Linked DNA regions of Homo sapiens. The protein of the gene in region 1 interacts with the protein of each later gene in a pairwise test. Each region holds a gene or a part of one and is shown on either strand. Other genes may lie near its edges.

Evidence for each region.
Region 2: the proteins of TMEM14C (region 1) and HSD17B13 interact in binary tests that used the Homo sapiens proteins (3 or more experiments, as listed by UniProt).
Region 3: the proteins of TMEM14C (region 1) and NCR3LG1 interact in binary tests that used the Homo sapiens proteins (3 or more experiments, as listed by UniProt).
Region 4: the proteins of TMEM14C (region 1) and GORAB interact in binary tests that used the Homo sapiens proteins (3 or more experiments, as listed by UniProt).
Region 5: the proteins of TMEM14C (region 1) and MFF interact in binary tests that used the Homo sapiens proteins (3 or more experiments, as listed by UniProt).
Region 6: the proteins of TMEM14C (region 1) and SLC10A6 interact in binary tests that used the Homo sapiens proteins (3 or more experiments, as listed by UniProt).
Region 7: the proteins of TMEM14C (region 1) and MMGT1 interact in binary tests that used the Homo sapiens proteins (3 or more experiments, as listed by UniProt).

The regions. Positions count from the first base shown.
Region 1 is NC_000006.12:10,721,444-10,726,030, forward strand, and holds the start of TMEM14C (transmembrane protein 14C), read left to right. Parts: upstream 1-1,626; 5' UTR 1,627-1,798; intron 1,799-3,112; exon of another isoform or gene 3,113-3,126; 5' UTR 3,127-3,170; coding exon 3,171-3,190; intron 3,191-3,517; coding exon 3,518-3,594; intron 3,595-4,463; coding exon 4,464-4,565; intron 4,566-4,587. UniProt on the Homo sapiens protein: Required for normal heme biosynthesis.
Region 2 is NC_000004.12:87,305,631-87,309,598, reverse strand, and holds part of HSD17B13 (17-beta-hydroxysteroid dehydrogenase 13 isoform A precursor), read left to right. Parts: intron 1-3,968. UniProt on the Homo sapiens protein: Plays a pivotal role in hepatic lipid metabolism. In vitro, it catalyzes the oxidation of a variety of lipid substrates, including 17beta-estradiol, retinol, retinal, and leukotriene B4.
Region 3 is NC_000011.10:17,361,575-17,365,542, forward strand, and holds part of NCR3LG1 (natural cytotoxicity triggering receptor 3 ligand 1 precursor), read left to right. Parts: intron 1-3,968. UniProt on the Homo sapiens protein: Triggers NCR3-dependent natural killer cell activation.
Region 4 is NC_000001.11:170,545,629-170,549,596, forward strand, and holds part of GORAB (RAB6-interacting golgin), read left to right. Parts: exon of another isoform or gene 1-163; intron 164-3,968.
Region 5 is NC_000002.12:227,327,783-227,331,750, forward strand, and holds part of MFF (mitochondrial fission factor), read left to right. Parts: intron 1-895; 5' UTR 896-1,007; intron 1,008-1,823; exon of another isoform or gene 1,824-1,963; coding exon of another isoform or gene 1,964-2,001; intron 2,002-2,843; coding exon of another isoform or gene 2,844-2,883; coding exon 2,884-3,064; intron 3,065-3,968. UniProt on the Homo sapiens protein: Plays a role in mitochondrial and peroxisomal fission. Promotes the recruitment and association of the fission mediator dynamin-related protein 1 (DNM1L) to the mitochondrial surface.
Region 6 is NC_000004.12:86,842,747-86,846,714, reverse strand, and holds part of SLC10A6 (sodium-dependent organic anion transporter), read left to right. Parts: intron 1-3,968. UniProt on the Homo sapiens protein: Transports sulfoconjugated steroid hormones from the extracellular compartment into the cytosol in a sodium-dependent manner without hydrolysis.
Region 7 is NC_000023.11:135,967,357-135,971,324, reverse strand, and holds part of MMGT1 (ER membrane protein complex subunit 5), read left to right. Parts: intron 1-214; coding exon 215-267; intron 268-3,831; coding exon 3,832-3,935; intron 3,936-3,968. UniProt on the Homo sapiens protein: Part of the endoplasmic reticulum membrane protein complex (EMC) that enables the energy-independent insertion into endoplasmic reticulum membranes of newly synthesized membrane proteins.

The DNA.
Region 1 (4,587 bases):
TGTATCTAGCTCAGGGATTGTAAACGCACCAATCAGCACCCTGTCAAAACAGACCACTCGGCTCTACCAATCAGCAGGATGTGGGTGGGGCCAGATAAGAGAATAAAAGCAGGCTGCCCAAGCCAGTAGTTGTAACGCACTTGGGTTTTCTTCTATGTGGAGGAGGCTTTGTTCTTTCTCTTTTTCTTTTTGCAACAAATATTGCTGTTGCTCGGTGCTTAGGTCCTGTGTTGTCTTTACAAGTGGTAACGCTCACTGCGAAGATTTGCAGTTTTGCTCCCAAAGCTACGAAGACCACGATCCCACCGGAAAGAACAAACATATTCCAGACGCACTGCCTTAAGAGCTTTAACATTCGTTATAGAAGTCTGTAGCTTTGCTCCTTGAGCCAGTCCAAAGCTAGGGAGACCACGATCCCACCGGGAAGAACAAACAATTCCAGACACACTGCCTTAAGAGCTTTAACATCCACCACAGAGGTCTGTAGCTTTGCTCGTTGAGCCAGTGAGACAGCAAACCCACCAGCAGAAAAACTCCCTGAATACTTCTAAACATCGGAAGAAAAACTCTAGAGACACTGCTTTTAAGAACTAACACTCATCGCGAGGGTCTGCAGCTTTCTCAAGTCAGACCAAGAAGCCATCAATTTTGAACACACTGGCACGTTGTGATCTCTCACTATCTCCACTAAAAATAACAAAAATTAGCCTGGCAGCCAGGGGTGGTGGTACAGGCCTATAATCCCAGCTACTCAGGCAGCTGAGGCAGGAGAATCAGTTGAACATGGGAGTCAGAGGTAGTGGTGAGACAAGATCATACGCTGCACTCCAGCCTGGGCAATAGAGTGAGACTCCACATAAAAAAAAAAAAAACTTGGCTGGAATTCGCTTTATTCACTGACAATTATATTGGTCAGATTTGTGTATGTTGATACTTGTAGGGGATGGAGAGGGAGAAGTCAACGATGACAGCAAATTTTAGTGTAGAGCAACTAAGAGAATGGTGGTGCAGGAAACGGAATAGGAGTGACTCCAAGTGGGAATGGAGATAATATGCTGTGGATATTTTGGGTCCACAGAGCTGGGTAAAAATCAGGTTTAACTTACTCCCCATCCCCCTTTAAGATGCTTCTCAAGCAGCCTCACTCCCTAAAACAAACGGATATTTGGCTTTGAGCCACATTATTCTGCAGCCCCCGTATTTTCTTCCAGGCAGGCCCTTCCTGGTGTAGACAAGATCGGGCTTGAGTGACACTCCTCCCTGATGGCCTGCATCTGGTTTATACCCTGTAACTTGTTCCTCTATTAATGGGGTCCTTCAAAATCCAGCCTCAGATTCCCTGGTCCCGCAGCGGTGGCCTCACCTCTGGCGTGGCCGAGCTCACGTGGTCCGGCTTGTGCAAGTCCCAGGTCCAACTCCGGGTCTCCTGCTTTTGGCCACTCAGGATTGGACCTGGGACTGATACTGGTCGGCCCTGCAGGCGCTGCGGACAGGGGAAGCACAGAGATTCCCCGCCGCGTTCCCTGGACTCAGGAGCTCGCCGCGATGCCCCGCCCCACTCTCCACCCGCTGAATGCAGGGCGCATGCTGCTACTTGGCGGCTCAAGCCCCGCCCGCACCGTCCCCATTCTCTGACCGCCCCTCTCCCGGTACACTGCGCAGGCACAACAGAGCCGCTCCCCTCTCCTCGCCCCGCCACCGGGACGGAGAGCGCCCGCCGCTGCATTTCCGGCGACACCTCGCAGTCATTCCTGCGGCTTGCGCGCCCTTGTAGACAGCCGGGGCCTTCGTGAGACCGGTGCGAGTATTTGGGGATTATTCTTATTTTCTGCCACTTTTAACTTTTAGGGATTATTTAGGAGTTTCACGGCCGTCTGCTTTTCGTCCCCCCGATTCAGCGGGCCTTCAGGCCGTGTGGTCGGTGCTTTTCTCGTTGGGTATTTTCTGCTTTTAAAAGAAGTTGTGGATGCGCGGAGCCCCTGGGCTCCTGAGGCAAAGGCTTACCCATGTAGCATAGTGTTGCCTCGTTTCTTGGTGATTTTCTTGCTCCATCTCTTTAAAAGCCTCCCTTACTCGGTGCCGTCTCGAGTTAAGAACTGTGGGCAAGATCCCAAGCCCGCTGCCCTTCCCTGTTTTATGGAAACTTAATTCTTTTTTTTTTTTTTTTTGTCCTTGAGGGAGGGACTTGCTCTGTCGCCCATGCTTGAGTGCAGTTGCCTGAATATGTCTCATTGCAGCCTCTGCCTCCTGGGCTCAAGCCATCCTCCCACTTCAGCCTCCCAAGTAGCTGGGATTTACAGTCGCATATCACCATGCGCGATTAATTTTTTTATATTTTTTAGTAGACAATGGGTTTCACTATGTTGGCCAGGCTGGTCTTGAACTCCTAACCCCAGGTGATCCGCCCGCCTCGGCCTCCTAAAGTACTGGGATGACAGGCGTCAGCCACTGCGCTTGGCCTAATTCTTTAAACAGAATAAACGGGGTATGCATTGCTTTCATCTTTTGGCTCACTGGACACAGGATACTTTCTGTAAGAAAATAGAAGCTGTTTTTCCAAGGGTGTAGTGTCACATGTGAATATGACCACTGTTTCCGTATATTTTATCCTCTCCTACTACTGCCCTCCTAACAAGAACTGTGAGTTGGACGCAGAAGTTTCTAAAAAAGTTGAGCTTTGAAATTGGCTGTTGCAGCAGGGATGAAAAGCAACACCCCTACCTCCCCTCAAAAGAGACATTAAAGTAGTTGGATTAAGGGCACGGGAGTATTTGCTTTTGAATTTAGTGATAACATGGGTAGCTGATGAAATGACTAACACATTCCCTGATTTTAGAGCTGGTCAGTGGATCTTGCTGAGTTTCCCGTGGGCCTATGTGATTAAAACTGAGGTTTTCATGACAATGGTCAGCATCTGTTCAGGGTTTACTAGGTGCTAAGCACCTTTACATGTGACATCCATTGAATGCTCACTACAGCCCCAGGAAATCGGTACCAGTGTTATCCTCATGGTACAGTGAAGAATACTGAGACTTAGGTTGCGTAGCTTGCAGGTTGGACACACTTCTTTCTGACTGCTGGAGAGCTGTGCTTTTAACTACCTCTGATCCAGCTTGTTTTCTGCAGGTGCAGGCCTGGGGTAGTCTCCTGTCTGGACAGAGAAGAGAAAAATGCAGGACACTGGCTCAGTGTGAGTGCAGTAAATGGGTATGGAGTAGCCAGGAGCTTCTGGAAACCAGAGTTCCTTTCCTTAGCTGAAAAGAACCTTAAGAGTAGACTGCCTGGGATGGCATGGGGGATGGGAGGATCACTGGACCTGTGGGCCAGAAACTTGGGTTTGAGTCCCAGCTCTGGCTTTGCTGAGTTGTGTGACTCTCAGAAAGTCATCCAACCTCTGTGGTCCTTATTTTCAGTGATAGGACCTGTGGGGAATGATTACCTTTTAGTCCCATCCTATGACAGTATGGTTTGTTTTCAAAGCCAGGTTAGCACTGACTTCTCCCTCTTGTGTTTTCAGAGTGCCTTTGCATTGGTTTGGCTTTGGCTACGCAGCACTGGTTGCTTCTGGTGGGATCATTGGCTATGTAAAAGCAGGTAGGGTTTTGTTGTTACTTAGCCTCTTAACATCTTCACGTTGTCCCAGTGAAATGTGAATGCCCGTGTCCCTGAGAAGCAATCTCATTTGAGTCAGGTTTGCTGTGGGTCCCCAAGCTGGAGTGCAGGCTTCCTTGTCAGTCTTGCAGCTCCTGCCCTTGCCCTTTGGTTATCTGGTGAAGCTGAGCCAGGCCTCTTTTGGAATTACTTGTTTTTGCCTCTTTATCTACAGATAGGCAGGGGCGGTTGTAGTTTGTTATTATCGTTGACTGCCATTCATCAGCCACGACCCCCAAGTGCCATCTCTGGGCTCAAGTAGGAGGAAACCTCTGGCCTACACAGACTGGTATTTTGAACTCTCCTCGTTAGGCCAGGCAGGGGTGTGTCAGTGGCTGTGCTTGTGTTTGCCCCCTAGTCCTTGCCTGCATTCCCACCCCAACCCCTGCACCAGAATTCTTCTTCTCCAGGTCTTTGTATTTTTTTAATTGACTGGCCTTATCTCCTTCTCCTTTTGTGATTTGCTGGAGGTCCTGCCTGTACACAATTCCAGTCCTTCATGGTTGATCAGGCCTGATTAGAAAGAAGGCCTAGCCACAGTTCCATCTAAGGAGGGAAGATGGCCTTCTTTCCTTTCCTTAGATGGAAGTGCCCTGCCTATTAGAGGAGAGAAAAATGGGGTGGGAAGACCCTGACTTCTCTGAGAAGATAGCACACTCTCTGTAACGTCTTCCTGCTTGAGTCCACCTTGGCTATGAGCTGTGTTGAGAGTTCTCTGTGCTGTCCTCCTTTGTAGGGCAGCGGTCTGGGGGATTCCGTTAGTGAAATAAGTGCCTGACATTACAATGCAAGCTGTGTTTGCTTCCCTCTAGGCAGCGTGCCGTCCCTGGCTGCAGGGCTGCTCTTTGGCAGTCTAGCCGGCCTGGGTGCTTACCAGCTGTCTCAGGATCCAAGGAACGTTTGGGTTTTCCTAGGTATGTCTGCTTTGGCGTCTCC
Region 2 (3,968 bases), on another chromosome or scaffold:
CTGAATCTATAGAGCAATTGGGGAGTATTGACATATCAACAATATTGAGTTTTCTAATCCAAGAACATAATATCTATTTTTAAAATCTTCTTCAAAATCTTTAAATCTTTAAATTGTATTTTGTAGTTTTTGGTGTTTAAGTCTTGCACATATTTTGTCAGATTTATTCCAAAGTATTTCACGGGTTCTTTTTTTTTTTTTTTTTTTTTTTTTTGAGACAGAGTTTCACCCTTGTTGCCCAGGCTGGAGTGCAGTGGCGTGATCTTGGCTCACTGCAGCTTCTGCCTCCTGGCTTCAAGTGATTCTCCTGCCTCAGCCTCCCAAGTAGCTGGGATTACAGGCACCTGCCCCCTCGCCCAACTAACTTTTTGTGTTTGTAGTAGAGACAGGGTTTCACCATGTTGGCCAGGCTGGTCTCGAACTCCTGACCTCATGTGATCCACCTGCCTCAGCCTCCCAAAGTGCTGGGATTACAGGCATGAGCCATCATGCCCAGCCCTATTTGACGGTTTTTGACGCTAATGCAAGTGGCATTTTAAAAAATTTTATATTTCCCATTGTTTGTTGTCAGTATATATTGGATTTTTGTAATTTGATCTCATATTTTGCAGTCTTGCTAAATTGCTAAACCTCTTTTTGCTAAACTCGATAAGCTTTTTTTTTTTTGGTAGATTCCTGGGCCTCTAATTTTCTTTATGGGAAAGTTTTTAATTACAAATTTAATTTCTTTAATAGCTACATGGCTATTCAATTTACTTATTAATTCTTGGTAATGTGTGTCTTTCAAGGAATTTGTCCATTTCATCTAAGTTGTAGAATTTCTTTGGCATAAATTTGTACATAACATTCCCTTATTATCCTTTTAATGTCTTTAGAATGTCTTATTTATTTATTTATTTATTTTTATTATATTTTTTTGAGACAGAGTCTCGCTCTGTTGCCCAGGCTGGAGTGCAGTGGCACAATCTTGGCTCACTGCAAGCTCCGCCTTCTGGGTTCATGCCATTCTCCTGCCTCAGCCTCCCTAGTTGCTGGGACTACAGGCGCCTGCAACCATGCCCAGCTTATTTTTTTTTTTTTTTTTTTTTTTTTTTTTTTTTTTTTTTTTTTTTTAGTAGAGACGGGGTTTCACCCTGTTAGCCAGGATGGTCTCGATCTCCTGACCTGGTGATCCGCCCGCCTCAGCCTCCCAAAGTGCTGGGATTACAGGCGTGAGCCACCAAGCCCAGCCTATTTATTTATTTAGTAGAGACAGTCTCACTTTGCTGCCCAGGCAACAAAGGTTTTGAATGCCTGGCCTCAAGCAGTCCTCCTGCCTTGGCCTCCCAAAGTGCTGGGATTACAGGCATGAGCCACTGCACCTGGCCAAATGAATATGCTGATAATATCTTCTTTATAAGGATGACATAAGAATAAAATAATGTAATACAAACAAAGCCCCTGTCACTGAAAATGTATAGACTTCAAATGTTAAAGTCTTAGAGAACAGAATTTATATGAAATAGCAACAGCAACAATTTCCCAGAGGAAATACTCTCTCAGCTTTCTTCTGAGGAGCAGTTTCTAAATTGAAATTGTATCAGTGAGAAGATAACTATACTAACTTCATAAGCCTTGGGCCTTTTTGAAACAAATCCATATAAACTATGAACAAACTTGAAATAGAACAATTTGAGAACAGGGTACAAACTGCATTGGTGTATCAATTTCAGTATTTGGTTTTAGCTTAAATAGACTGACTTGAGATAACATAAGGAGAACCTTGACCCCCAAGCAACATCATCTCGCGAGTTGACTAGGCCGGGTGTGGTGTCTCACGCCTGTAATTCCAGCACTTTGGGAGGCCACAGCAGGCAGATCACTTGAGGTCAGGCATTCGAGACCAGCCTGGCCAACATGGTGAAACCTCAGCTCTACTAAAGATACGAAAATTAGCAGGCATAGTGGCCTGCACCTGTAATACCAGGCACTCGCAGGAGAATCCCTTGAACCCGGAAGGCGGAGATTGCAGTAAACCATGATTGTGCCACTGCACTCCAGCCTGGGCAACAGGAGACTCTGTCTCGGAAAAATAAATTTTTTAAAAAAATGAAAAAAAATAAAAGTTGACTAAATTAGTGTCTTGGTACTAAGCACTGTAGGAAGTGAGTTTCATGGAACCCCAACTCTCTTGGGGCCCAAAGCAAGTCATATTAATATTGAAAATTACATGCATATACATGCATATGACCAAGGTGATAAAAACAATTATTCTGCCTGAGTTGGAGAATAGTATCCCAGTAAAATAAACAAGAGTCTCAAAGTCTTTTGTATCCTTTGAAGCTGTCATGGTGGTTTGTAACTAGGCAACAGGTATATATTGTTAATCTTCTTTGCATTTAATTCCTTTTATAGAGAGACACAATTTTACGAGCAGATGCAATTACTAGCATGAAGGTTTCTTTGTGAGGGTAGTTAAAAGGCCCACATGAGCTCTCTTCTTATCCTTGTCCTTCTTTCAGCCAGATCTTCCCTGCCCCTTTGCTCATTCCATCTTTCACCCACCTACCCCCAAAACAAGGAAGTAAATCTTGCATTAGTCAACAATACCAAAGTGATTTTCAATATGACTTTCTCTGCAGAATGTTATTATTTCTGCCTCTTTACATTCACATACTGTCTTCCTTTTTTTTTTTTTTTTTTTTTTTTTTTTTAGATTGGGTCTCACTCTGTTGCCCAGGCTGGAGTGCAGTGGCTTGATCTCAGCTCACTGTAACCTCCACCTCCTGAGTTCAAGCAATTCTCCTGCCTCAGCCTCCTGAGTAGCTGGGATTACAGGCATGTGCCACCACACCTGGCTAGTTTTTTTGTATTTTTAGTAGAGACAGGGTTTCACCATGTTGGTCAAGCTGGTCTCGAACTCCTGACCTCATGATCTGACCACCTGTGCCTCTCAAAGTGCTGGGATTACAGGCGTGAGCCACCGGGCCAGCCACTCTCTTCCTTTCAGTTGCCTACTCATCTCTTATGCATTCCTGGACATCAGTTGTCCTTTTGAAGCTTTCCTCCACTATCCCAGCCCATGTGAATCCTCCTTCCAGTTATAGCCCTTAATTCTAGATGGCTGATATTTTTCAATAATTGTTTTAAGATGACCATTTTAGCCTATCAGCTAAACAATATCAAAGACAATAGCTATTTTTCAAGTACTTTAGTTTACCTTATTATAGAGTGCATAATAGATATTCAGTAAATAGTAAAGGAGAGGTGAAGGCTTGCATAGAATGGATTCTGGTGGTGTCTCTTGGTGAGCTTTTAGCATCAAGATTAATCAGCAGTTTCAGCAATGAGCTCAGACCTTCAGTTTTAGATCTTTACTCATATCAGATAAGAGAGTGAGAAGAGTGGTATGTATCAGTGCTTTATTTATATTTGCATCCAATTTGAACTATGAATATTACAAAGGTGCACACATAGGTTCAGACAGATTGATTTAAAATGACCAAAGATGACCTGTCGTAAGCAACCTGGGTATCTTAAGATGCACTCCTTGGAGAGGGAATGTTCCTAAAAACATTTTCAGAGGGACGAACTGTATGAAATTCAGTAAAACATAAATCATGAGGAAAACTGATTACTCTCTTTTTGACATGAAATGAGAGTTTTAATGCATGGTTACGATTATTAACGTACTCCGCTGCAAGACGTTAATAAAGTTACTGTTTTGCAGGCTAGAATGTCTTGATGCTGTAATCAGAACACACTTTTTCCCCTTTCTTCCAGCTTCAAATGCAGATTCATAATTGGGCTGACTTCTAATAACTGCAATGTTTTCTGCCTTGGGCTTGCAGCAGAAGCCTGACAAAATAGTGTTTGTTTAGGCAATAATTTATTTATTTATTTATTGAGATGGAGTTTCATTCTTGTCGCCCAGGCTGGAGTGCAATGGCGTGATCTCGGCTCACTGCAACCTCTGTGTTCAGGCAATA
Region 3 (3,968 bases), on another chromosome or scaffold:
ACACCTGGCCAATGGTATTATATTTTTAATTTCAAATTCCAGTTGCTCAATTGTTCATTCCTGTCAAATAATTGATTTTTGCTTATTAACTTTGTATCCTGCAACTTGCTTTAATCACTTATTCATTCTAGGGATTTTTTTGTTTTTGTTTTTGTTTTTGTTTTTGGCCAAGTCTTGAGATTTTTCTACATAAATCAGGCTGTCTGTTAAAAATACAGTTTTATTTCTTCCATTATTTTATTTTATTTTTTACAGAGGTGAGGTCTCACTATGTTGCCCAGGCTGGTTTTGAACTCCTGAGCTCAAGTGATCCCCCTGCCTTGGCCTCCCAAAGTGCTGGGATTACATTGTGTGAGCCACTGTACCAGGCCTCATATTTCTTCCATTCTAACTTTATACCTTTTATTTCCTTTTCTTGTCCTGTTATGCTAGCTTAGACTTCCATTACAATGTTGCACAGGAGTGGTTAGAAGGGACATCTTGTCCATTTCTGATTTTACTTTCTAACCATGAAATATGATATTAGCTATTTTTTGGTAGATATTCTTTAGCAAGTTGAGGAAGTTTCCCTTTTATTCCTAGTTTGCTAAGAGTTTTTCATATGAATCAGTCTTGGGTTTTGTCAAATACTTTTTCTGCATTATTGGTATGATCATATAATTTTTTCTTTAGCCTGTTGATATGATGACTTACATTAACCAATTTTTGAATGATAAGCCAGCCTTGCATATGTGTAATATGCCTCTCTTGGTTATGGTATGTAATTTTTTCTGTATTGTTGGATTATATTTGCTAATATTTTCTTGAGGATTTTGTATCTACTTTAATGAGTGATATTGATCTGTAGTTATCTTTTCTGGTAATGTCTTTATGCGGTTTTGGCAGTAGGATAATATTGGGCTTGTAGAATAAGTTAGAATGTGTTCCCTCTGTCTACTTCTACTTTCTGGAAGAAATTGTAAAAAACTGGCATTATTTATTCCTTAAATGTTTAGTAGGATTAACCAGTGAAACCATCCGAACCTGGTGCTTTCCTTTTTGGAAGGTGATTTTTTTCTTCTTCTTTTTTTTTTTTTTTACTAGTTATTGACTCAGTGTCTCCTTCCTTCCTTCCTTCCTTTCTTTCTTTCTTTCTTTCTTTCTTTCTTTCTTTCTTTCTTTCTTTCTTTCTTTCTTTCTTTCTTTCTTTCTTTCCTTCCTTCCTTCTTTCCTTCTTTCTCTCTCTTTCTTTCTTTCTTTCTTTCTTCCTTTCTTCCTTTCTTCATTTCTTCATTTCCTTCCTTTCTTTCTCCCCTCCCCTCCCCTCCGCTCCCCTCCCCTCCCCTCCCTTCCCTTCCCTTCCCTTCCCTTCTCTTCCCTTTCTTCCTGCAACGTCTTGCTTTGCTGTCCAGGCTGGAGTGCAGTGGTGCGATCATGGCTCCCTGCAGCCTTGACCTCCTGGGCACTAGCGATACTCCCACCTCGGCCTCTGGAATAGCTGGGACCACAGGCATGCACCACCATGCCCTGCTAATTTAATTTTTTTTTTTTTTTTAAGAGATGGAGTCTATGTTGCCCAGACTCGTCTTGAACTCCCTCGGCTCAAGTGATCCTCCCACCTTGGTCTCCCAAAGTGCTGGGATTACAGGCATGAGCCACCATGCCTGGCCCACTAAAGCACTTCTTTTTATGTTTCTCGCACAGCAGGTCTATTGGTGAAAGGTTTGTCTGAGAAAGTCTTTATTTATACTTCACCTTTGAAGGAAAATTTTTCTGGATATAAGATTCCATGTTGGTGTTTTTCTCTTTTTTAAGTTTCAATGCTTTAAATATTTCACTTCACTCTCTCCTTGCTTGCATTGTTTCTGACAAGAAGTCCAGTGTTGTTCTTGTTCTTCTATATGTAAGGTGTGTTTTTTTTCCTGTGACTTTTTTCTGTCTTTCTTTTCCCTCCCTCCCTCCCTCCCTCCCTCCCTCCCTCCCTCCCTCCCTTCCTTCCTTCCTTCCTTCCTTCCTCTTTCTCTCTTTTCTTTTCTTTTCTTTCTTTCTTCTTTTGAGATGGGGTCCCACTCTGTTTCCCAGGTTGGAGTGCAGTGGTATGATCACGGCTCATTGCAGCTTCACCCTAGTGGGCTCAAGCCCAAGTGATCCTCCCACCTCCGCCTTCCAAGTAGCTGGGGCCACACGCGGGTGCCACTAAGCATGGCTAATTTTTGTATTTTTTGTAGAGATGGTGTTTCATTATGTTGCCCAGGCTGGCCTCGAACTCCTGAGCTCAAGTGATCCACCTGCCTTGGTCTCTGAAAGTGCTGGGATTATAGGAGTGAGCTACCATGCTTGGCCATCTTTGTCTTTCTAAAGTTGAAATATGATATGGCTAGACGTGGATAGGCATATTTGGATATTTATCATGCCTGGTATTCTCTAAGCTTCCTGGGTCTTTAGTTTGGTGTCTATCATTAATTTTGGAAAATTCTCAGCCATTATTTATTCAAATTATTTCTTCTGCTCCTTTCTCTTTTCTTCTTCTTGTATTCCCATTATATATCTGTTACACCTTTTGCAGTATCCCACAGTTCTTGGCTATTCTGGGGTTTTTTTTAAATTCTTTTTTCTCCTTGTATTTCAGTTTGGGAAGTTTCTTTTTTAAAAATTGTTTGTGATAGGGTCTTGCTCTGTATCCCAGGCTGGAGTGCAATGGCGGGATCTTGGCTCAATGCAACCTCTGCTTCCCAGGTTCAAGCAATTCTTGTGCCTCAGTCTCCTGAGTAGCTGGGACTACAGGTGTGCACAACCATGCTGGCTAATTTTTGTTTTTTAAGTAGAGACGGGGTTTTGCCATGTTGGACAGGGTGGTCGCCAACTCCTGACCTCAAGCAATCTGCCCACCTTGGCCTCCCAAAGTGCTTGGATTATAGGTGTGAGCCACCACACCGTGCCCAGTTTGGGAAGTTTCTATTAACATCTTCAAGCTCACTGATTCTTTCCTTGTCAGTTTCTTTTTTTTTTTGAGACGGAGTTTTGCTCTTGTTGCCCAGTCTGGAGTGCAGTGGCGTGATCTCAGGTCACTGCAACCTCCGCCTCCTGGGTTCAAGTGATTATCCTGCCTCAGCCTCCCAAGTAGCTGGGATTACAGGCATGCGCCACCACCCCTGGCTAATTTTGTATTTTTAGTAGAAATGGGGTTTCTCCATATTGGTCAGGCTGGTCTCGAACTCCTGACCTCAGGTGATCCACCCACCTCGGCCTCCCAAAGTGCTGGGATTATAGGTATGAGCCATTGCGTTCAGCCTCCTTGTCAGTTTCAAGTCTACTGTTGAACCCACTGAAGGCATTCTTCATTTCTTTAATGGTGTTTTGAGCTCTAGCATTCACTTTTGGTTCGTTCTTAGCATTTCCATCACTCTGCTTATATTATCCATCTGTTTGTGCATGTTATCTGCTCTTTCTGTTAGTGCTCTTAACATTTTAATTATAGTTTTTTAAAATTCCCTATATGATAATTCTAAAATCTGTGTCATACCTGAGTCTGGGTCTGATGTTTGCTTTGTTTTTATGTATTTTTTAGCCTTGTAATTTTTTAGTTGAAAGAGAGATATTATGTATCAGGTAATAGGCTTTTATTATGCGGCCTTATGTTAATTTGGCTAGGAGCTGGGTTGTGTTTAATGCTTATTGTAGCTATAGGTGCCAGAGACTTCAGTTTCTCTAGTGTTTTTTTCTCTCCTTTCCTATTGTCTTTGGGTTTCCTTATGAACTCCTTAAATAGGTTCTGTGCCTTGTAGCTCTCTCACTTATAATCTTCTGTTATTATACTGGAGCCCTGTTGATGTGGTAGTAAAGTGTTGGAGGAGAATCTGTTTATACTTTTATGATTAAATCTTATTCTTTTAGTGGCCTGAGCCTCTGGACTGTGGCCTTCAGAAGTGTTTCTTAGCCTTTTCTCTTTCTCTCTTCTTAAGTAATACAGAAAGGCTATAGACAGCTGG
Region 4 (3,968 bases), on another chromosome or scaffold:
GTTAATGACTCAGTTTTCTATCTTACTCTGTTACACTAGAAATGAATCAGAATGCCTCATTAGGCCAGGGTAAACCACAACATCAGAATGTTTATATAACAATTTATTAAAGCGGAAATGCTTGATTGTGGTTTTTAATAAACTGTTGAGTGTTTAAGAAAGAGTCTTGTGGTTGTCCTTGTGACTTTTGTAATTGTTGTTGGACCATATGCTATTAGACTTAGAGTTGTCTTTATTAATTAACTACTTAAAAGAATGCCATCAGTAGCTGATAACCAGAGGTTCCAGGTTTCCATTAATAAGGTCATTAAGGGAGATAACAGAGATTTTATTTAAGATTAAACTAAGCCTTGATTTGTAGCACATTTTATTCTCTGTAACATAAGTTTGCCAGAGGAACATTTTTATGCCTTTGTAGCCTTTTATATGAATAATTCATATTATAAGGTAGAAGTACTAGGTACCTCAGTTGAAATTTGAGGCCGGGCACGGTGGCTCACGCCTGTAATCTCAGCATTTTGGGAGGCCAAGGCAGGTGGATCACGAGGTCAGGAGTTCAAGACCATCCTGGCTAACACGGTGAAACTTCATCTGTACTAAAAATACAAAAAATTAGCTGGGCGTGGTGGTGGGCGCCTATAGTCCCAGCTACTCAGGAGGCTGAAGCAGGAGAATGGCGTGAACCTGGGAGGCGGATCTTGCAGTGAGCCAAGATTGCGCCACTGCACTCCAGCCTGGGCAACAGAGCGAGACTCCGTCTCAAAAAAAAAAAAGAAAGAAAAGTAATTTGATTTTAATTTTGTCCTAGTGGAAACTGGAGAAAGACGCTTTTTCATATTCAGTATTATATAAGAAATGTCATAGTTTTAGCCTTCTAAGAACCACAACAAAGAAGGTGGGATTACTAAAGGAAAAAACATCCTATAGTCTATAAGTATCCTAAATGAAATTTTAGTAAATTTTTAAATCTTTAGTAAGTTACAGATGACAGTTTCTCATGGTACTAATATTGATGTAGTTGAATGTAAGTAGATGTTGTGTGCCACTATTTTTGTTTTTATTTTTAGGTTTTTGAGACGGAGTATCACTCTTATTGCCCAGGCTGGAGTGCAGTGGTGCGATTTTGGCTCACTGCAACCTCCGCCTCCCAGATTCAAGCGATCCTCCTGCCTCAGCCTCCTGAGTAGCCCAACTATAGGTGCCCACCACCACACCTGGCTAATTTTTTGTATTTTTAATAGAGATGGGGTTTCACCATGTTGGCCAGGCTGGTCTCCAACTCTTGACCTCAGGTGATCCGCCTGCCTCAGCCTCCCAAAGTTCTGGGATTACAGGTGTGAGCCACCACGCCTGGCCATGTGCTGCTATTTTCAAAAGCCGAAGCTCTTGCGTTGAGTCAAAGGGAAACAAAGACTTTGGTGACTAGAACCGTAGTGTGTCTTGTTCATGCGTAAGATTAAGGTATTATTTTCTAAACTTGCATTTGTGGTTATTGAGAAATTACAGATCGGTAAAATAATATTATGGTCCAGATTTGAAGTGAAAGATAATCCCTAGGACAGTCAGTTTTTATGGGAGATTTCCTTGTTTTTTCTTTTTTTAATAAAAATGATATCTTAGTTCTATAGTATTTGGTACAGTGCTATGTCCACAAAAGGTTCTTGGATAGTGAATAGGCCAGAACTTGCTTTAAAATTGGCTTCTGTAGAGCAGTGTTTGGATAGACACCTCTGAGAAGACTAGCACTTTGAGCCAATTTGAGAGAGTTGCTGCTGCTGCTGCTGCTACTGCTGCTACTGCTGCTACTGCTGCTACTGCTGCTACTGCTACTACTGCTACTGTTCACCACTGGGATTACAATGTTGCCATATGCTGTGCAGACCAGTTTATAAAATCCAGAGTGGCTGCATGTAGAACATTTTTTTAAATCACTATTGACCATCTAGGTTTCATAGACACCCTCATACATGCAAACATACACCCACAGACGAATATTTTTAAATCACTTTATGAGTAATTTTTAAAAGTAAGATTAAAAGGGATTGTGTAAAACAACTTTAAAATTTTAATAAGAATGTAAGCATGGTAACCATCTTTGTATCAAGTAATGTTTGACTCACAAACATAAAAAGCTGAGAGAGTATAGTTACATCCTTGTAGCAACACAAGATAGTCTAGATACTTGTAAAATATTGGGTGTATGTTCTCCCTGCTGAAATGATTAACTCTATGATAAAATCATTTTTCCTTTCTATGCTTAGAAATATATTTTTTACTGACTGATTCTTAAGTTTGAGAAAATTCACCTAGGATATGTTTTGCTGAAGACTCATCTGAGATTTCACATATGATCGATTTTATCATCTAGACTCTAGAATGTGTCTCTGCATTTGTATTAGTTTCCTAAGACTACCATAAGAAGTAATCCAAACTGGGTGACTTAAAACAACAGAAATTACTTCTCTTTCATTTCTGGAGGCCACATATCCAAAATCAAGGTGTCAGATTTGTGATTTCTTCAGAGACTCTAGGTATCCATTTCTTGCCTCTTCCAGCTTCTGGTGGCTGTGGGCATCCCTTGGCTTGTGGCCACGCCATGCCATTCTGTGCCTCCATAGTTATGTTGCTTTTTCTTCTCTCTCTAAACTTCCTCTGCCTTTCTCTTAAAAAGATGCATGTGATTACACTTAGGGTCCAGCTGGATAATCTGGAATAAACTCCTCAAAACCTTTATCTTAATCACATCTTTTTCCATATAAGATAATTTTCACTCATTTGTCATAGAAAGTAATATTCACAGGTCCCAGGAATTAGAAAGTGAATATCTTTGGGAGGCCATTTTTTAGCCTACCACACCATTCATCTTTTGATTTCTTTAACAGTGGCAAGATGTCTTCCTCTGTCAGTTGTCTCCACTTTGCAAATACTGGATAGGCAGAAAATGAAAACTAAAAACAGGTTACAAAAATGGTGTTTTCAGTCTTCTTTTATACTTTCTGGAGGTGACATGATACTTTGTACAGCACAGTAAAGAAGCTCAACAATGATAAGTTATTGCATCATCCTTTCAGATCATTTTCTTATTTTAATTTCTTTTTATTACAAAAGGGAATAATTGATAAGTAATGATGAAATAATTCCTAGGATGATGAAATGGCAAAATGTTTCAAGATACAGGAAATATAAAAATACTGCAATAATCCTATAATATATCTTAGATTTATGAAAGGGTTCTTTGGACCTCTCTGGTAATTGCAAAATATAATTTATTTTATTCTGTTTTTTTAAATAAGTAAATTTTCTCATTATTTGAAAGACTTAAGAAAAGATAAAAATTATGAAATGCTAATTTATACAAATAGTGAGAACTGCTCAGAAAAGGAACTGAAAAACTAAAAGTGGACCCGTGGAACCCAGTGGTATACTGAGGGTTAATGGTTGAGTTTTTAAACATTTCAGGGGATACCAAAACAAAGAGACAATTTCTAGAATCCTTTAAAAATAACATTCATTAATTCATTCCATCCCCCTTTAAAATAACAAAACAGTTCTATAATTACATTTCCAGTTCACTCTGTCTTACTGTGTTATGTATAATGCTCTTATTATTTTGTTCCAGAATGTCATCATACACTAATTTGGTATTACCCACCTGACCATAGGCTGGTAGTGCAGTTTGTGAAACTAATCAATATTTTAAACATTAAATCACTCTGTGGGAGAATATATATTCGTATTTCTGGCCAGAAGGACTTTAAATAAATAAACAAAATACAAAATCTTCAGTGATTTATCCAGGGTGATAGATCAATGGAAACCAAGGGACCTGTTCGCAAATGTTAATTTCAATTCAGTATTCATGAATCCAGACTGTAAATCTCTACTGATTGACTTTGACTGGCTGAAGGAGACCACAGACTTGCAGAAAAGGGAGGTTTGAGGCAGGGTCAGGGCAGGGTATTCATACA
Region 5 (3,968 bases), on another chromosome or scaffold:
TATTATTATAAAACTTCAATTTATAATGGCCAAAGGCTATAATCTTTTTGAGGTAGCTTTTTTCAGTGTTAGTTCTGAATATGAGCTTTTGCTATGCTTGAGATACACGCAAGTATTAGAAGAGCATCTCATCTGGAATGATGCACAAAAATTGATTATAAAGGTTGCCTGTGGGAACCTGGGTGGTTAAGGATAGGATTGAAAGTGGGACACTTCCTTTTCTCTGTATAGCTTGCGTACTTTGTACCGAGTACATGCATTACTAGTTCAAAATTTTAACATCGTAAGTGAATGAAAATTTAAACAGGCCGGGCACGGTGGCTCACACCTGTAGTCCCAGCACTTTAGGAGACGAAGGCCAGAGGATTTCTTGAGCCTAGGAGTTTGAGATCAGCCTGAACAACATAATAAGACCCTGTCTCAACAAAAAATACAAAAATTAGCTGGGTGTGGTGGCATATGCCTGTAGTCCCAGCTATTCAGGAAGCTCCATTGCAATCTAGCCCGGGTGACAAAAAAAAAAAAAAAAAAAAAAAAACCAATTCATTTGTTCTTCTTTAACATATATGTGTACCTATATGCATATATATACGTAAGTATTAGATTCATTTAAACTTACGTATTTTTCATCTGCCACATTTTTCTAAATACAAATCAGAAACAATGACAGAGCTAGTCTTTTATATTGCCTTAACTAATGAATAGTTGTAGGACCCCATCTGTGGAACTAAGATTGGTGGTAAGCTTAATTTTTTTCTTTCTTTATTTTCTTACTGGTCTCTTGATGTCAGGTTGTGCATCTTTGTGACTGTTACTATTTGGAGAATTTCCAGTAATGAATCCCTAATAGTGGTTTCATCTAGTTTCTCAATTAGCCCCTGTTTTTCTTCCCCAGGGACAAAAGTGGCTCTCAATCCAGCACATGCACATTGAAGCAAGTTAAAGGATTTAATATGAAGCACAGAAGCAGATAGTGCCAAATAGCAAGCAGTAGTTGTTACACATTTGTGAGTAAAAATGGTCCCTTTTGGCTTACTTTCTTAGTCTTTAAATCGTCTGCATGCCAAATCCTTAAAGATCTATGTCCCCAGAGATTTTTTGATAAAGAATAAAAGATGTGAGTTAGCAGTCATAGTCAAACCAGTTGCTGGGGCTGAGCGTCCTGAGCAACCTCTAAGAGCTCTCCTAGGCATCTCAGTGAGGCGGGGGCTTAGGGTGGGGCTATATCTCCAGCATGGAGTTTAGGAAATACCTTAGCCATGGTAAAGTCATGTATACTGTCTTTAACTTTTTATGTCTTTAATTTATATATAGTGTCTTTGCTGAAAATTTAGTGTAATTTCCATTTGAAGTTTACCCTAAATTTTGAAGTTTATTTTTATTTAAAGAAACCATTAGACGTCAAATATGTAGGCTGCCTCAGTTACATTTACTTTTTACCCTTTGTATTCCCTTCATGATTTATTCATTTGGGCTTAGTCTTAAAAAAGGATTTTTCCCCTTTGGAGTATAATGATTAGAGGAGTTTTATGGCAGTATTGTTTTCTTCGAATCTGACTTCACATTTGTATATACATTTGATACAGCTTCTCTGTATCCTGTTTGCAAAATCATAAGACAGTGACTGTGCTTACAACTGTCTTTATGATTTTTGAGGTATAGAAAAACTCTTCTTAGGATAGATTTAACAATTGGTTTCTCAAATCAAGCCCTAAGCCATGTTCAAATCCAAAAGTCATTTTACGTAGATATTTACTTTTATTCATAGTTTTCTTATGAAATGAATTGTTGAAATACTGATTTTTATTCTTTCTTTTTTACAGCTGGAAAAGCAGTGTCCGTGTTGTTATGTACACCTCCAAAAAAAGTTCAAATGTGTAGGGGAATTGTTGTGTAAAGTAAACTGAACTGCAGGGTAGCAGTATTTTAATAGCTATTATAGACCTGTATTTACTGTATTTAAATGAGTAAAGGAACAAGCAGTGACACATCACTAGGAAGGTCAGTGAAATTTTATTCAGTTGAGCTGGTATTATAGGTTTGAGAGACAATGGCTTTAAAGCTTACTGCCGTAGGCTAACCATGCTCTTTTACATTTTTATCAGCTTTTGTATTGGCGGCAACATTCTTTCTACTGCATTAAAAAAAAAAACACATGTAAATATGATATTAAATACAGATTAATAGTGTAAAACTTTCAGTCCCTCCAAAAATGAATACAAACATGAGGATTTATTATTACAAATTCTAAATTTGGTATTCATTGCATCTCAGTCATTAGGAGAAGTTTTAGTTTGTATGATGTGATTTTCAGGGAGTTGCATCTTCTTTTTTAGTAAATTCAGAGTTAATGTTATGCATCTGTCATTTAAAGGTTTTGAATAACAGATGCATTTGTCATTTAAAGGTTTTATTTTTTCATGCATGACAGTAATTTTTAATTTTATATTTTTAAAGTCCAAGCAGCTTTCCCTCAAATTGATGAGGAAATTTTAAGTTTAAATTTTATTGCAGGCATTTTTTTAGTTACAAGCAGCATGCATGTTTACGCAGAGAGTATGTGTGTATGTGTGTGTACACATTTGTGTTGTAATTCTATAATAATTTAAAAAATTTGCTCCTAAGCAATATCCTCAAGGTACAATTTCAGCTGATAATTAAGAAGGCATTTTGTTGAGGAAGACATTTTCTTTCATCTTTTATTTTTGCTTTGTATGTGTTCAGTACTTGCAAATGAGAAGTTTCCTTTCGCTCTTTCTATAAGGTATTGTCTTCTAACTTCACTGCGTAGAGGAGACTGACATTTTAACAGTCAGCCCTGTCTTTAAATTTTTCTCCCACAGGGTGAGCAGGGCAGCATTTCCTTCTCCCACTGCTGCTGAGATGGCAGAAATTAGTCGAATTCAGTACGAAATGGAATATACTGAAGGCATTAGTCAGCGAATGAGGGTCCCAGAAAAGTTAAAAGTAGCACCGCCAAACGCTGACCTGGAACAAGGATTCCAAGAAGGAGTTCCAAATGCTAGTGTGATAATGCAAGTTCCGGAGAGGATTGTTGTAGCAGGTATTTCACCTTTACTTAGAAGGTTGCCTGTTAAATCTTTGTTTTATATGTTTCTATGAAAACTTTTGAGTTTTTCTAAATGTTATTTAGAAAAGGAGTTGGAAAATGCAACTTTATACTTTTGAAATTTCTATTCATTATTATAGTCTGAATTGCAAACAGTATTTTTTAGTAATTCAACTAATTATTGAGGTTTTACACACATAAAATGTATACATTTTTAAGTGTGTACTTGATGAGTTTTGACAAAAGTGAACACCCATATAACCACCACCACAGTCCAAATAGAGACCATTTTTGTTACTCTGCAAGGTTCCTTTGTGCCTCTTTCTCACTCAGTCCCTACCCCTCAACTCTAGGCAACCATGATCTCCTTTCTATAGCCAGAGAATAGATTTGTCTTTCCTAGAGTTTCATGTAAATGGAATCATAGAGTATATACTCTTATCTGTCTTCTTTTGTTCAGTGTAATGTTTTTGAGATTCTTCTGTTGTTGCATATATCAGTTGTTCATTCAGTTTTATTGCTGGGTAATATTTCAGTTTGGATACACCATAATTTGTTTTTCCTTCATCTTCATTCGTTGATTGCTTTTTGTTTGAAGCTGTTAGGATTAAAGCCACTGTGAATATTCAGGTTCAAGTCTTTGTGAGGACATATGGTTTCATATCTTTAGGAGTGAAATTGCTGGATTATATACAAGTTATTTTCAACTTTGAAAAACTGCTAAACTGTTTTCCAAATTCTTGTACTATGTTGCATTCCATCAGTGATGAATAAGTTACAGTTGCTCCACATCCTTGCCAACATTTTGTATTGTCAGTCTTTTTAATTTTAGCTGTTTGAGTGGGCGTGTAGTGCCATCTTGCGATGTTAATTCTATTTCCCTGATTATTAATAATTT
Region 6 (3,968 bases), on another chromosome or scaffold:
CACTCTTGTCGCCCAGGCTGGAGTGCAATGGTGCGATCTCGGCTCGCTGCAACCTCCACCTCCTGGGTTCAAGTGATTCTCCTGCCTCAGCCTCCTGAGTAGCTGGGAATACAGGTACCCGTACCCACCACCGTGCCTGGCTAATTTTTGTATTTTTAGTAGAGATGGGGTTTCGCCATGTTGGCCAGGCTGTTCTCAAACTCCTGCCGTCAGGTGATCCTCTTGTCTCGGCCTCCCAAAGTGCTGGGATTACAGGCGTGAGCCACGGCGCCTGGCTGACACAAGACTATATTTATGGAGGAAATATATATTTGTGTGTGTGTGTGTATTCAGAGTGCCAGGTACATAGTAGTTGTGCAATAAATATTAGCTACTTTTCCTCTTTTCTTTCTAAATTTTGATTTTGAGTCTTACCAACAAAACTAAAAAAACAAGCAAAAACTAAATATTAGATTTTTAGAAGCTTATAGGTACAAAAGTAATAAAATCAATTTTCAGTAGAAACTCAAATAGGTGAAAATCAAGTACGGTGTGAAACAATATCTAAGTAATTACATTTCTTCATAATTGAATACCAACAAAAAATCAGTTTTAAGCAAAACTCAGTGGATCGTCATTGATAGGAGTTTTATCTGCTGTTAATGCTGGATAAAATCCAAGAGCGGTTAGCACAACATCTTCATTTGACACACGAGGAAGTGGAGATTTAGCTCCCTGCAGATGACCTTGAGCACGTTTCTCATGCCTTCACTCCTGCTTCATGCAGTGCACTTGCAGTTCTCCATGTGTTCACCCCACACAGGCATTTCAGAATCCATTGGTTGGAACCGGTTTGTGCGTTCTGCAAATGAGATGACTGATGACACCCATCCTCTTGCAGTTGCCTGGGCTTGTCATCTTAGCCTTGCCCTGTGACTACCCTCATTCTCGCCATGGCCACTCAATCCACTGCCAAGCCCTGTAGCCCTTCCTCTTGCTGTGTTGCTCACAGTTCTTGCTTCCTGTTGGTCTCCACTAACACTTCCTCAGGTCAGGCCCTCACAATTTCTTTCTTGGCTAATTGTATTTTCACAACAATGAAAGTGCTGTTCTCTGCACCTTTAGTCTCTCCATTACGGCTTTGCAGTAAGTGGATAAGGCAGGCTCTGATACCAGATTGCCTATATTCAAATCCTGACCTTGGGCCTCTTCTCTGTAACTGGAAATCATAACATTACCCGCATGGTACTGTTAGGAGAAAACGAACATGTTATACATACAAAGGCTTCTCAACACCTACTAAATTGGTAGAAACGACTAAGCCAGTCTACTTTACTTCTCCAGGTTCTTTTATTCCACTAGTCCCCTTAAGAACAATGGTTTTTAGTCAAAATGGGCTGCTCATAGTTCTCTGAGCATATCTCACACTCTTCCAGCTTTCTTTTGCCCATGTTGTTCCCACAGTCTGCAGTGCCAACTGACCTTATTTTGTCTCCTCCAGTCATGATGTTGTTCTTCCTTATAACCATCCTAGAAAGCAGTTGGCTGATATGTATGAAGAGCCTTAAAAATTATCCTGCCTCTGGGCCGAGTTTGGCTGATCATGGCTGGGTTCTTTTACATATTTTGGGGTTGGTTAAATGTAGACTGGTCTTGGGTGGTGATATGGTTTGGCTCTGTGTCCCCACCCAATTCTCATCTCGAATTGTAATTCCCGTGTGTCTAGGGAGGGGCCTGGAATCCCCAAGTGTCAAGGGAGGGAAGTGATCAGGTCATGGGGTTGATTTCCCCCATGCTGTTCTAATGATAGTGAGTGATGGTTTTATAAGTGTTTGGAAGTTCCTCCTTTGTTCTTCTTCTCTCTCTTGCTGCCTTGTGAAGAAGGTCCTTGCTTCCCCTTCACCTTCTGCCATGTTTGTAAGTTTCCTGAGACCTCCCCAACCATGTGGAACTGTGAGTCAATCAAATCCCTTTCCTTTATAAATTACGCAGGCTTGGGTATTTCTTTACAGCAGTGTGAAAATGGACTAATGCAGGTGGCTTCAACCTGGACAACTGGGCTCTCTTACTACATGATCTCTCATTTTCTAGTAGACTAGCCTAGACCTGATTACATGGCAGCAGCAGGGTTCTCAGAAAGGCAAAGCAGAAAAGGTCTTTTGAAGTGTTGGCTTTAAACCAGATCCTCTTCCTTCCACCACATTCCATTGGCCAATGCAGACTGCAAGGCCAGTCCAGCTTCATGGATTAGGAAAGTCGATTTTGCCTCTTGATGGGCTGAACTTCCAAGTCACATTACAGCGGACATGGATAAGGGAGGGGTGAAGAATAGGGGGCATTTTTTTCCCCAATATATCCTACTAGAGATGGACAGAATTCCTACCTTTGAGGGTAGAACATGAAAATTAAGATCTGGCAGTACGGTGTAGTAGTTAAGGGCTCTGGAAACAGCAAGCAGACCCATCACTTACTGACTGGATCATCTCGGCAGATTATGCACATTTTCTATGCTTCAGTTTCCTTACTTCTATTTTTTAATTTTTATTTTGATTTTTTTTGAGACGGAGTCTCGCTCTGTCACCCAGGCTGGAGTGCAGTGGCGTGATCTCGGCTCACTGCAAGCTCTGCCTCCCAGGTTCACACCATTCTCCTGCCTCAGCCTCCCGAGTAGCTGGGACTACAGGCGCCTGCCACCACACCTGGCTGATTTTTTGTATTTTTAGTAGAGATGGGGTTTCGCCATGTTAGCCAGGATGGTCTTGATCTCCTGACCTCATGATCCGCCCACCTCAGCCTCCCAAAGTGCTGGGATTACCGGTGTGAGCCACCGAGCCCGGCCAGTTTCCTCACTTCTAAAATGAGAAGCATTCCTACATCGTGAGCTGTTGAGAGGATTGAATGAGTTAATATTTCTAAAGTGCTTAGAATCTCACTTGGCATAAAATGTGATATGAACTATTATTATTATTATATAAGGCAGGCAAAAGAACATCGTGTCCTGGGTCTGTGTTTTAGTCCCTGCTCAAGGAGCTGCATGCCTAACCCTAACCCTGTATATAATGATATATCATAATATATATGTGTCATGTTTTATCTATTCATCCATCAACGGACAATTGAATTATTTCCACTTTTTGGCAATTGTGAATAATACTGTTGAGTCTCAGCTTTCATTTCCCTTGAGTGTATGCTTAGGAGTGGATCTGAGGTTAAATATTAAGTATTTTGTGACTATAGGAAAAGCAAAGCAAAATATGAAGTCCAAATGTCCCCCTTCCTCTACCGTAGTTTCTCCTGAAACTACTGCCCAGAAATGTTTCTCTTGTCTGTCCCCATAATCCGAATTATGTAACTCTTCCTTATCATCTGTTGGAAAGCATTGCAATAGCTGGGCTACTTGTCTGCCTCACCTACTATATCTGTAAGCTCCTGGAAGGCTTGCTCATCTTTGCTTGCACAGTACCAGCCAGGTAGTGGTAGGCACTCGGTAAACATGAGTGAATGAGTGAATGACAGTTTCCGATTGCCTGTGTGTATTACAAAAACAACCCTCAAAAGAGGTCCAGGCCAGGCGTGGTGGCTCACACCTGTAATCCCAGCACTTTGGGAGGCTGAGATGGGCAGATCACTTGAGGTCAGGAGTTCGAGACCAGCCTGGCCAACATGGCAAAACCCCATCTCTACTAAAAATACAAAATTAGCCAGGTGTGGTGATGCATGCCTGTAATGCCAGCTACTCAGGAGACTGAGGCAGGAGAAATGCTTGGACCCAGGAGGCAGAGGTTGCTGTGAGCCGAGATCACACCACTGCACTCCAGCCTGGGCAAGTGACAGAGCGAGACTCCATCTCAAAAAAAAAAAGAAAGAAAGAAAGAAAGAAAGAAAGAAAGAAAGAAAGAAAGAAAGAAAGAAAGAAAGAAAGAAAGAAAGAAAGAAAGAAAGAAAGAAAAGAGGTGTCCATTTATTGATGCAACTCAGGACAGCTCCCA
Region 7 (3,968 bases), on another chromosome or scaffold:
CACTTCTTTTTTTATTTTTTATTTTATTTTATTATTATTATACTTTAAGTTTTAGGGTACATGTGCACAATGTGCAGGTTAGTTACATATGTATACATGTGCCATGCTGGTGTGCTGCACATAAGTCAGCCACTTCTTTGGTATATTGATTTGCTTCATTTTAAGAAAGAAAAATGAACTACAGTTTCCTTAATGGTATGCTTCTGGTTTATAGATCGTTCTTATATGCGATTAACAGAAAAAGAAGATGAATCACTGCCAATAGATGTAAGTTGGTCATTTATATTCCGTTACATGTATGTTTAAAATCAGCCACATAGCTTGTAATAATTTTTTTTTTACTGGTTTTTCGTAAAATTTTTCAGACATGAAATAAAATCTGATCTCCACTTTTCTTTTCTTTTCTTTTCTCTTTTGAGACGGAGTCTCACTCTGTCACCCAGGCTGGAGTGCAGTGGCCTGATCTCAGCTCACTGCAAGCTCCGCCTCCCAGGTTCACACCATTCTCCTGCCACAGCCTCCCGAGTAGCTGGGACTACAGGTGCCCACCACCATGCCCGGCTAATTTTTTGTATTTTTAGTAGAGACAGGGTTTCACCGTGTTAGCCACGATGGTCTCGATCTCCTGACCTCATGATCCGCCTGCCTTGGCCTCCCAAAGTGCTGGGATTACAGGAGTGAGCCACCGCGCCTGGCCTGTGATCTCCACTTTTCATCACTCATAAAGCTCAAAGATTTGGAAAGGTTTCTCTATTTGGTTTCTAGAGCTGTAGTCGAAATAGTCTTTCTCGAAGATGCTCTGTCCATAGTATGGGATGGACTTAAAAAGTTGATTATTTAGCTTTATTTCTTAGAAAAGTTCATTTTTATGTAAGGGAAATAAAGCCAACAGTACATTGTTTAGGGACATACATAGGTGGTAAAATGAAAGTGGTTTTAGTTTTTTTTCTTTTTTTTGAGACAATGTTTTGCTCTTGTTGCCCAGGCTGGAATGCAGTGACGCGATCTGGGCTCGTTGCAACCTCTGCCTCCCAGGTTCAAGCAATTATCCTTCCTCAGCCTCCCAAGTAGCTGGGATTATAGGCGCCCACCACCACGCCCAGCTAATTTTTTTGTGTTTTTAGTAGAGACAGGGTTTCCCTGTGTTGGCCAGGCTAGTCTCGAACTCCTGACCTCAGGTGATCCATCTGCCTCAGCCTCCCAAAGTGCTGGGATTACAGGTGTGAGCCACAGCGCCCGACCAGGAAAGTGTTTTTTAAAACTAAAATGATAAGTATTCCAGCATCACTCACAATTTTTATCTTTACTAGACTTGAAATTACACAAGTAGTAAGTTCTTTGTAACAGAGTCAAACAGTAAAAACTAAAACTGACCCTACACAATTATAAAAACACCAACAACAGAAGAACTGGCCCCGTTCCTTGGCAGTTCCACTTCTACTCCCAACAGTTTGGAGTATAGCAGTAGTTCAGTCTTCTTCCTATACACAAACAGCATTATGTATGTGTAGTTTTACCTAATCCAAACACGTATTATTTTTTCTTTAAAAAGTTATACATGTGTATATATGTATAGTTTTATAATTAACTTTTTTATTACTTAACAACTTCAGTCTTACTTTCATGACAGCTCATATAGATTCTTGTTAAAAGTGCCTGTGACTGTGTTATATAAAACAAGTCTTCTGGCCAGGCATGGTGGCTCACGCCTGTAATCCCAGCACTTTGGAAGGCCAAGGCAGGCAGATCATGAGGTCAGGAGATCAAGACCATCCTGGCTAACACGGTGAAACCCCGTCTCTACTAAAAACACAAAAAATTAGCCGGGCATGGTGGTGGGCGCCTTAATCCCAGATACTCGGGAGGCCAAGGCAGGAGAATCACTTGAACCCGAGAGGCAAAGGTTGCAGTGAGCCGAGATCATGCACTCGAGATCTGCACTCCAACCTGGGTGACAGAGCGAGACTCCATCTCAAAAACAAAAACCAAGTGTTCTTGGTAGACTGGTGGTGGGAATGTAAATTGGTATCGTATATGATGTTAGATTTTAATTTAAACAGGAAAATAGATTGTGGCTAATTTTGACTTTGTCTGTAATTAAATATATGATTGATGAGGCTGTTAACTCCTATCACCTTTTTTTTGTGGTAGATACACACACACACACACACACACACACATACACATATTTATGTCTATTTTAAAGAACTTTTTTCTATAATCTGAACATGCCCATAATCCCATGTTGGTTAAAATAAAACATTCTGCGTTTTTGCTCGCTCAACCTCTTTGGAAAGCAGTTGATATTACTCAATCAAATTGAACATGTGCATACTCTACACTCAGTGTTTCCATGTGTGAACTGGGCGACATGCATATGAATATTCATGTTGATTGTGAAGGTAACAGGAAACAACCCACATATCCAATAACAACAGCAGAATGGATAAATTGTGGTATTTTCATATCATGAAATACAAAGCACAGTGAAAACTGGCCGAGCACGGTGGCTCATGCCTGTAATCCCAGCACTTTGGGAGGCTGAGGCAGGCGGATCACCTGAGGTCAGAATTTGAAACCAGCCTGGCCAACATGGTGAAACCCCATCTCTACTAAAAATACAAAAATCGGTTGGGTGCAGTGGCGGGCACCTGTAATCCTAGCTACTTGGGGGCTGAGGCACGAGAATCACTTGAACCTGGGAGGCTGAGGTTGCAGTGAGCCGAGATTGCACCACTGCACTCCAGCCTGGGTGACAGAGCAAGACTCCATCTCAAAAAAAGAAAACACACACACACACACACACACACACACACACACACACAATGACATAATGTTGAGCGAGGAAAGCTAGACACAAAAGAATACATTTGAGTCCATTTAAATAAAGTTCAGTATGGGCAAAAGTAAGGCATATATGTTTTAGAGATTCATATATATTTAATAGCTGGTAAAATTATCAAGAAAAACAAGAAACTGAGTAATATATAATTCAGGACCATAGTTAACTTTGAGAGGGAAGGTAAAGGATATCATCTGAGATTGACATGTGGAACTTGAAAGGTACTAGGAATGATCTATTTCTTAAGCTGGGTGGTGGGTACATGGTCTTTTAATTGCTTTATGCTGTGTACATATGCTTTCTGCACTCTATGATATATAACAATAATACTGGCTGGGTGTGGTGGCTCACGCCTGTAATCCCAGCACTTTGGGAGGCCGTGGCGGGCGGATCACCTGAGGTCAGGAGTTCGAGACCAGCCTGACCAACATGGAGAAACCCCGTCTCTACTAAAAATACAAAATTAGCCTGGCGTGGTGGCGCATGCCTGTAATCTACTCAGGAGGCTGAAACAGGAGAATTGCTTGAACCCGGGAGGTGGAGGTTGCAGTGAGCCGAGATTGCACCATTGCACTCCAGCCTGGATAACAAGAGGGAAACTTCGTCTCAAAAACAAAAAGCAAACAACAACAACAACAACAAAAAAAAAACAAAAACAATAATACCTTAAAAATTCTTAGTTGCTCTTGGAAGCAGGTAATATTTGATCATTGAGTTCTGAGTGGCTCAGTACCATTCAGTACTCAGTGATTTTGCTTATTTGAACACTAGATTTATTTATTGAAGCATCAGAGGTATTTTTGCAGCCAATCCACAGAATTTATAGATTGTATTGTGTCTGAATCCCAGTCATTTCAAGTGAGCATTGTCTCCCTGATGGTGGCCCTGAGAGGACTACCTGTTAGAGGCAATGAAGAGGTAGAGAGAAAATTGTAAATATTTATAATAATGTTTGTGTTATTTAGTATTATCAATCTTTATACTCACAGATAGTTCTTCAGACACTTCTGGCCTTTGCAGTTACCTGTTACGGTATAGTTCATATTGCAGGAGAGTTTAAAGACATGGATGCCACTTCAGAACTGAAAAATAAGTAAGTCTTTCTCTTTTCATAGGCATTGCATTT